Linked DNA regions of Homo sapiens. The protein of the gene in region 2 purifies or fractionates together with the protein of the main gene of each other region. This does not show direct contact. Each region holds a gene or a part of one and is shown on either strand. Other genes may lie near its edges.

The links. Proteins that work in one complex are often made in the same cells at the same time.
Region 1: the proteins of RYK (region 2) and CELSR1 purify together in Homo sapiens (affinity purification with mass spectrometry; 2 studies listed by BioGRID and IntAct, with this or other methods). This does not show direct contact.

What each region holds. Positions count from the first base shown.
Region 1 is NC_000022.11:46,390,291-46,394,620, forward strand, and holds part of CELSR1 (cadherin EGF LAG seven-pass G-type receptor 1 isoform 1 precursor), read right to left. Parts: intron 3,973-4,330; coding exon 3,852-3,972; intron 1,527-3,851; coding exon 1,343-1,526; intron 998-1,342; coding exon 896-997; intron 786-895; coding exon of another isoform or gene 553-785; exon of another isoform or gene 238-552; intron 197-237; coding exon 102-196; intron 1-101. UniProt on the Homo sapiens protein: Receptor that may have an important role in cell/cell signaling during nervous system formation.
Region 2 is NC_000003.12:134,159,395-134,164,555, reverse strand, and holds part of RYK (tyrosine-protein kinase RYK isoform 2 precursor), read left to right. Parts: intron 1-5,161. UniProt on the Homo sapiens protein: May be a coreceptor along with FZD8 of Wnt proteins, such as WNT1, WNT3, WNT3A and WNT5A. Involved in neuron differentiation, axon guidance, corpus callosum establishment and neurite outgrowth.

The DNA of each region.
Region 1 (4,330 bases), on a different chromosome or scaffold from region 2:
AACACTCCCCAGCCCAGGAGCCTCGGCCCACACAAACTCTCTCACGCATACACGAACACACACGTGCCCCTGCTGAACACACATCCCCGAGGCGCCCCTACCATGGCCCTGAGGTCCACGAAGGAGATGGTGGTACAGTTAAAGAGCTCTGGGGGCAGCCAGCCCTTCTCCCCGCTGCAGTGTCGGACCGCATTTCCTGGGGAAGGAGAGCAGGTGTGCAAAGCCTGAAACTCAAACTGTTGATCAATGCTTGTGTATTTCAATCCACAATCTGAATATACTTAAACCCAGAACACTGCGTGGTGGTTAGAACCCCATGGGGGCCAGGAGGTCGACACCAGCGCCCCTCTTTCATGTCAGGGCCACGGCCGAAGCTGCTCTGACACTGACAACCAGGCGTTTCGGGAGCCCAGCCAACAGGAGCCAGCACTTCCGAGCAAGTCCGTGAGGAAAGAAATCAGCAACACCATCTGCCGGCAGCCACGATCCCATGCACCAGGAATCCATTTCGGCTGGGCCTTTCCTTGCCTCACTGGATTTTCCAGACGCCCCTCACAGAGTGGACACAGTCAATGTCCCCATTTCACAGAGGTAACCCGATGCTATGAACAGTGAAGCCACTTGTCCCGGTGCCCCAGCCTGAGCGGCAGAGCAGGGACTGGCCGGGCCTGACTGGCGGGCGTCCCCACACGCGCTGCACTGTTCATGTTTCTGTTGCGCCCTCTGCCTGCTTTGTGTATTTCCTGGTAGGGAAAAGGCGATCGGATTTCTCCCCAGCACTTTGCCTGCGGATATTTTTTCAACACGAAACATTCCATGAGTCCCCACATCTCGACTGGCTCCTCCCACAAGGACGCCTGCCTCAGTTCCCTACACACAGGCCACGGCGACTCACCAACGGATCCCTTAGGGCATGGCACCGCAGCCGGCTGCCCGAACTTGGTCTGTGGCCACCAGATGCCGGCCTCAAATGCTTTGGGACAGCCATTGTAGATCACTGGGGTAGAGAAGAGAGAAGTCTGCTCAGCGGGGCACGCCACACCCACGACCACAAACAGGCACCACTGTCTGCATGCGCCTCCCTGCAGGAGGCCCTGCTCCCACCAAGAACCGAACCCTAGCATCTCCCCTGCCCCCATCCATGTCAGAGCTGGAGAGGGGTGACCAGGCTCTGACCCACACCCCCTCACGCAGAACCAGGTTTCTAGAAGGTCAAGAGAACTCAGAACACGAGGGAGCCCAGGGTCCCCCAAACACCCAGCGTGCATGCACACACGTGCACGCCAGTGCAGCAGCCTGTCCCCGCGCTGTAACCTGCAGGGTGTCGAGGGGCAACGCGGACCTTCACAGCCGAGCGTGGTGACCTCGGCAAACGGGTTGTCGCAGCGGTTGCACTGGCGGCCGATGACGCCGGGCTTGCAGGCACACTGCCCGGTGGCCATGTCGCAAGTGCGGCTGTGGGAGCCATGGGGGAAGCAGTCGCAGGGCAGACAGGTGTCCTGGGCTAGGAGCTTGTAGTAATTCTCCTGCAAAAGCCAGAGGCAGGGCCTGTGACTTCAGATGCCCGGGAGAGGCCCTACCTTGCAGCGTGTTTCCCGAGCGACGTCCAGACTCCCACCCGGGTGTGTGTGTTGGCCGCCAGCCATCCCACCCCTCATGGCTACCCTCTGCCCACATCCCACACCCAACGGGGGCTGCCTCCCAAGGCCCCACAAGGCCGGACCCAGGAGAGCAGTTCTTCCGGGAAGCACGCCCTCCCTCATGTCTTAACAAGTCTCAACAGTGGGCACCTTCGTATTTGTCCTAAAAAGAATCAGAGATCCAAATGGAGGCTTACGTATGGGGATAGCCCTTGGGCGTTTTTTTAAAGTTGTTTTGAAAAATTAGAAGCCACCTGAACGTCCACCATTGGGTGGGTCAGGGTGACAATCAAGAGCTTGTACTTCGGGTTCAGAAAGTCCTGGGTTCATGCCTGACCCTTGCCGTTTACCAGCTACATTGCCTGGGCTGGTCACCGGGACTCCCCAGGCCCAAGTAGCACCCCCTCAACCCCGCCCCGGAAAACGGGGCAGGCTGTGACCAGGCTGTGACTTGGGCAGACTCGTGAGCAACGTTCAGACCTGTGTGTCAGGTGGGGACTCCGACTGTGTGTAAAATGACAGTGAACGACAGGCCCAGAAGAGATGCTAAAACACTAACAATCACAGCTGGGAGGCGCATGGGGTGACTGCGATCTTTATGGGTTTTTATTACATTTTGTATAACTTTGTTTTTTTATTTTTTTGAGATGGGGTCTCACTGTGTTGCCCAGTCTGGAGTGCAGTGGTGCAGTCACAGCTCACTGCAGCCTCAACCTCCAGGGCTCAAGTGATCCTCCCACCTCAGCCTCCTGAGTAGCTGGGATCACAGGCAAGCATCAGCACGCTCAGCTAATGTTTTTATTTTTTGTAGAAATGGGAGTCTCACTATGTTGCCCAGGCTGGTCTTGAACTCCTGGGCTCAAGTAATCCCTCCTGCCTCGGCCTCCAGAGTAGCTGTGATTACAGGCATGAGCCACCACGCCCTGCCTATAACTTTGGATGAGAAAAAAATCGTAGGCAAGTTTTCGCCAATGCACTCCCCATGTTCTCTCTGCTCTGCCACCCACTATGCCACCACCGCCATCTGGTGACGTGTGGACCGACCCTGACCCAGGAGAGCTGTTTAATTTGAGCCTTTCAGGACACAAGTCCCATTTGCTGTTGGAACCACCGCAGGCACTGGGGGGGGACACTACTGACATCACGAGATGGCATCCAAGGGTGCCCTGGTACCAGCTTCCCTCCTAGGGCCAGCCGCATCTGCAGGAAGCTCACGTCCCTCGCCCAGGCTCCTGTTACCCTCAGACCTAACATTTGGGTTTCAAGTCACTGTGAGCGCCATGGCCGTGGTGTACACGAAGATCCTGAAGGAGGTGATGTATCCTGAGAGGGCTGGGGAGGGGTCCCTAGAGTCTGCACTGAGAACGCGTGTGCATTTCTGGAGACACGAGATGTGAGCTCCGTGCTGCATGCAGGTTAGGACTGACCGCCCTGGACAGGCGTGGGGCATAACGCACTTAGTGACACTTTCTATTTTAAAACTGCTGTCATCATGGGACACCAGCTTGGTAAAGACCAGGAAAATGGCCAGGCACGGTGGCTCACGCCTGTAATCCCAGCACTCTGGGAGGCTGAGGCGGGCGGATCACCTGAGGTCAGGAGTTCAAGACCAGCCTGGCCAACATGGTGAAATCCTGTCTCTACTAAAAATACAAAAATTAGCTGGGCATGGTGGTGGGCGCCTATAATCCCAGCTACTCAGGAGGCTGAGGCAGAAGAATTGCTGGAACCCGGGAGGCGGAGGCTGCAGTGAGCCGAGATCGCACCACTGCACTCCAGCCTGGGCGACACAGCGAGACTCTGTCTCAAAAAAAAAAAAAAAAAGACCAGGAAAATGGCCAACCAGGAGGCCAGGAGGGCCGGGGTGGTGCCATAGATGAGCCAGCCCTCAGAAACGGGTGGGCTTCCCACAGCCATGGGCAGTAGGCCGGGAGGAGGCAGGGATTCCTGTTCCACGGGCGGGGGCTGGCAGGGCTGAACCCGTAGTTTACACGTGGAAAGCAGCCATGGAGTATTCACAGAGCACGGGGGAGCAGCAAGGAAACCAAAAACCACATCTGTACACAAATGTGATGTGAGTGGGCACAGGTGTGTGTGCAGGGGTGTGAGTGTGTACCGACAGGGTATGTGAAGGCGTGTGTGTATTTAGGGGCAGCTGTGCATGTGTGTGAGCAAACACAGCATGCAGGGATCATGGGGGCGGGGCCTCACCTTGCATTGGCACTGGCCGTTGGTCTTATTACAGTCGGGATCAAAGCCTTTGCTGACGGCACAGTGGCAGGGTCCACAGACGGGGTTCCCCCACCAGCCTCTGGGGCACGGAAGGTCGAGTCTGTGGGGAAAATAAGAGGGCAGCTGGAAGGTTTATGTAACTGTGCTTTCTGGAATGAGAAGAGGCCTGCAGGCAGCATGGAGATGGTTGCCCAGGAGGCCTGGCTGGGTCCAGCTCTGGGAGCTTCCCCTTCCACGTTACATGGCCTCAGTCTCCCCTCTACCGGCTCCCAACCTCACCCCCCACCCACAGATCCACCATGCCCAAAGCGACTGGGATGACATCTCTGTCCACCGTGTGCCCCACGTCCACATGATGCCTGACTCATTGGGGCTTAATGACAATGAACCCCCACTGCAAGGCTGGCCTTTCACGATGCAGCCCCAGGCAGACTGAGCTCAGCTGCCTGGCACAACTT
Region 2 (5,161 bases):
AGAATCATTCTGAGTAAAAGAAGCTAGGAAAACAGTATACAGCTTGAATAATTCTATTTATATAATTCTAGAAAACGCCAACTATCTAGTGACAGAAAGCAAATTAGTGGGTACTTGGGGATGGTAGTGCTGGTGGTAGGGAGGGGTGGAAGGAAAGGATCAAAACAGAATCATTTGGAAGTGATAGATATGCTCCTTATCTTGGTTGTGGCAGTGGTTTCAGGAGTGTTTATGTATATCAGAACTTATCCAGTGGAATACTTTATGTGCAATTTCTTATGTGTCAGCTGTACTACAATAAAAATAAATGAAAACTGTCTTTACTGTCTGATCACTGCAGCTAACAAATCTAGGACTACTTGCTAAATTTACCCAATCTTAAGACCCACCAAGGACTTTTGTTTAAAGGGATGTGATCCAGGCCTGTCATGGTGGCTCATGCCTATAATTCCAGCACTTTGGGAGGCCACGGCTGGTGGATCACTTGAAACCAGGAGTTCGAGACCAGCCTGGCCAACATGGTAAAACCCCATTTCTGCTAAAAATGCAAATAAATAATTAATTAAATAAAATAATGTGATCCAGGCTTCAGAATTATTAAGATAGGACAGAGGAACTGGACTTTTTAGCAAGCACCCCAGATAATTCTTCTCCTTCTTATAAAACACTTAACCCAGGTTCATTTAATTGCACTTTGGTAATCTGCAGCCATGTCTTTATGTGAGAAAGGGATATTAGGTTTCTAATATGAACAGAAAGGCCTAGCCATGGACCACCTGATGATGCTTCCACTGTGGTCAGATAAGATAATTTACAATTGAATGGAATTATTTTCCTTTCAGTTTATAGTTTACTGAAGTGAGCCTTGCATTGTAAGTTCCTGAAGTAATCACTGGAAATGTCTTAATTCAGTAGCTCCATCTTTAGTTAATGCTGCACTAAAAGAAAAAAGGAATTTTACTTACATACTTTTTGACAAGTCACATTCATATATGTTTTAGTGGAAAAACTGTTTTACATCTTATATATAGAAGCTGTAAAATAACATGTTCTGGGGAGAGGAATAAGATGAATAGAATAACATTATAATTATCTAAATGTTCTTTAAATGGAGATAGCCACAATCTTTCGTAAAACTCTGGAAAGAACAGCATGACCTTCTTATTGCCCCCTTTCCACCGACGTCAAACAGAAGGAAATTATAGAATAAGTCTGTCTAAATTTTAAATGGTTCAGTTATCGGAAGACCTTAGAGAGCAAGTTTTCCACAAATCATCTCTGCGCCATTTTGTCTTGATTATTTTTTTAAGGGTTGGTTTGCCAACATGTAATTAATCACTTTTGTTAGTTTTTAAGGAAATGAAACTGCATTGTTCCCTTTGGCTTGACTGTTCTTTTTTATGGCGTCTTTTAGTGTTGTAGTTGTAATATGAAAACCTTAGGTAAATGTTGGGCAGTAATGTGAACAAAACAGTGGGAAGGGAGTAATTTTTAAAAGCTTATCTACATTGCTGCTGTAATACTTACATTCAACTCCAGATCTCAAATACCACCAACTTTAATATCAAAGTCCCTTAAAGTCAGAAGGTGTTATAATGTCAGTGGATGGGGTTATTCCCTGTGTACAAAGAGTCAGGATGCACTTGTCACCAATTCCCATGGTTTCTTCTTCCAAAATCTAGTTTGAATGGATCATTTCATCTCTGGAGGAAGGGATGGGAGCACCCTTCCGACCAGTTTCATTTCTTTGGGCTCTGTTCCATCTGTGCAGGGAACTACCTTCTCTATGGAAATTGGACACGATTTTAAAAATAAAGCATTGCATTTACTAATGACTGTCAGTATTAAGATTTCATGTAGATCTTGTTGCTTCTCAGAAAAAAGTTTCATATACAGTAAGGTTTTAAAGATAGGCAAATAACTAGTTGTGAGCAGGCACCATCCTTTAACTTTTATTAATTTGAAATCATTTTTCCATTTTTAAGCAGAATAGAATGTCCCAGTAGGTGTAAGGGAAATTTCAGTAGCCTCCAAGACTCTGTGGAGATTTTGAAACTATACACGCTTCTCCATCTGTCGCCTGCCCCCTCCTCCCAGAGCATAGACTTCAAGGCTGGACTTTGCTCCATGTTAATGATCACTGTTAATGAAAAAGATAATAGGTTCCAAAAGGCTGACCACCTGTTTTTGGTATTTAGGGTAATGCTGCTGTCAAAGTGAATGAGATATATTCCTTCCTCTGTGTTCTGAAAGTTTACGTAGGGTTGGGTGTGTAATGGGTTGAATTGTGTCCTGCGTCTCCACCAAAAAAAAAAAAAAAATGGTTGAAGCCCTAACCCCCAGTACCTCAGAATGTGACCTTATTTGGAAATAGGGTCATTGCAGATGTAACGTTAAGATGAGGTCATACTCAATGAGTATGAGCTCTAATCCACCCTAAGAAAAGAGACACACACATGAGGAGAAAATGTCACGTGAAGATAGAGGCAGGGACTGCAGGGCTGCAGCTGCAAACCAAGACACACCAGGGGCTTCCGGCAACCACAGGAAGCTGGGAATAGGCAAGGAAAGATTCCCCCTACAGGTTTCCGGGGAAGCACAGCCACGCTGACACATTGATTTGGACTTCTAGCTATCAGAGCAGTGGGACAATAAATTTCTGTTGTTTAAACTACTCGTTTGTGGTATGTTATTATGGTAGCCCTAGAAAACTAATACAGATTTATATTTTCTTTCAAGTTTGATAGAATTCACCAAACAGTGTTGAGTTTTCTTTGTGGAAAGGTTTTGAATTGTGAATTCAGTATCTTTAATAGATGTAGGGCTATATAGATGTTCTGTTTACTCCTGTGTCTGTTTTGGTAATTTGTATTTTAAGAAATTTGTTTATTTCATTTAAGTTGCTGAATTTATTGGCATAAAATTGGATTGTTCATAATATTTTTTGATGTCTTAAAGGATGGTGTTCCCTCCTTTATTTCTGATATTTTAAATTTTTTGTTGTTGTTCAGTCTAACACAGTGGTTCTTAACTGGGACAGTTTTGCTCTGGCTAAGGACATTTGTCTGTGCCAAGGGACATTTGGCTATGTCCGGAGGCATTTTGGGTTGTCACAGCTTGGAGGATGTGCTACTATCATCTAGTGGGTAGAGCCCAGGGAGAATGCTAAACATCCTACAATGCACAGGACAGCTTCTCACAGCAAAGAATCCTCCAGCCCACAATATCAGTAGTGCTGAGGTTAAAAAACCTACTCTAGGCTTTATAGTGTAAACCTTCTATTTTCCAAAAATATTATATCATTTCATGTTTAATATAGTGTTTCCATTCATCCCCTTCCAGTCTTCAAACTGGTTGTGGGCATACCTTTTACTTCTCTGTATATTATAAACCCCACGATATATTGTTAGCTGTTTTTGCTTTAAATAGTCTGTCAAGGAAATTTTAACATAAGAGAATATGTTCAGTTGTTACTAATATATTTTCAGCACTCTGTATTCTTTGTGTTGACTCAGATTTCCATGTGGTATATTTTCTTTCCACATGAAGAACTGCTTTCATACATCTTACAGGTCTGCTGGAAACATAGTCTCTCTGCTTTTATTTGTCTGAAAAACTCTGTATTTATCTTCATTGTTGAAGTATATTTTGGCTCTATATAGAACTTTCCATGACAGTTTTTAATTTTTTTTTCTTTCTTTGAGACAGAGTCTCGCTTTGTTGCCCAGGCTGGAGTGCAGTGGCGCGATCTCGGCTCACCGCAACCTCCGCCTCCCGGGTTTAAGCGATTCTCCTGCTTCAGCCTCCCGAGTAGCTGGGATTACAGGCATGCGCCACCATGCCCAGATAATTTTGTATTTTTAGTAGAGATGGGGTTTCTCTATGTTGGTCATGGCTGATCTTGAACTCCTGACCTCAGATAATCCTCCCAAAGTGCTGGGATTACAGGTGTGAGCCACCGTGCCTGGCCCTAAAATATTTTAAAATATGTCATTTCATTGTTTTCTTGTTTGCATAGATTCTGGGGGGAAATGTAGCTATTGTTCACTATTATAAGGCTTTTAAAAAAATCTGTGTATTTTACAAAGTATTTTGGGATTTTGTTGTTATTGAAAAATAATAACCTAAAATTTAATGCAACATGTTTAGATTTTACAAACAGACTTGTATTTGACTTGCGTTTGGTATTTCTCTTTTTTCCTTTTCTTTTTTTCACTTTTTTCTCTTTTACTCATTAAAATATGTATTTTGGGGCAAGCTATTTCTCTGAGCCTCAGTTTTCTCACCTGTAAAATTGAGCTACCAATGATTCTCACAGGTTTATTGAGGAAATTAAATGTATTGAAGGATGCAAAATGATTTGAATTTGTAGGTACTCATAAACCTGATACTACAGTACACAGGTATCCCCCTCCTCATCCAAGTTCAGTTGTTCTGACCTCAGGGTTCACACTTGGCGGCAGATCAGTGGATGTACCGGATCTGAGTCCTTCCCAGCCATGTGGCAGCAGCTCTGTGTAGAGACGTTGCCTGCCCCCCGCCCCCTGCACGCTCTCCAGGAGCCAAGTACAGCCAGGAATTGGCCAAAATGGAGAGCCCCGAACGGACCATGAATGGACACTGTTGCCACTGTTTACTATTCCTGTTCCTTTCTGTAGTTTACCTGCTGATTTTAAATAAACCTGATTGCTTACTCAAGCAAGGTTGGAAGTTTTTTTAATCCTTTAATTTAAAACTTTAAATACAGTAAAAATCCATGACTTCTTATATTTCCCCTCATTTGCGTATTTCACTTAGGATGCTCTTCCCTTTAATTAAACTAAAATTCTGTTCATTTTCCACTTCTCAATTATGCAGACTAGCTATAATATTTAAAGTTACAAATTCTCATATTAGAAGAATCTTGGACATAATTCATAATACGTAGCTTGTAATCAACAGTAAACTATTACTTCCAATGGATCTAATTACTTAGAATTTATAATACTAATATTGGATGCACTCTTTTTTATCTTAGCAAGGGAAACTAACTGTGTATGATAGACATTTTTTTGTAAATAACATTTCGCTTTTCCAAAGCATGAGTTGAGCTGTTATTTTTTGTCCTGTAGCTGGCTGTGGGCGCTAGCCCCCTGACTGTTGTTTTAAATGTCCCCTCATT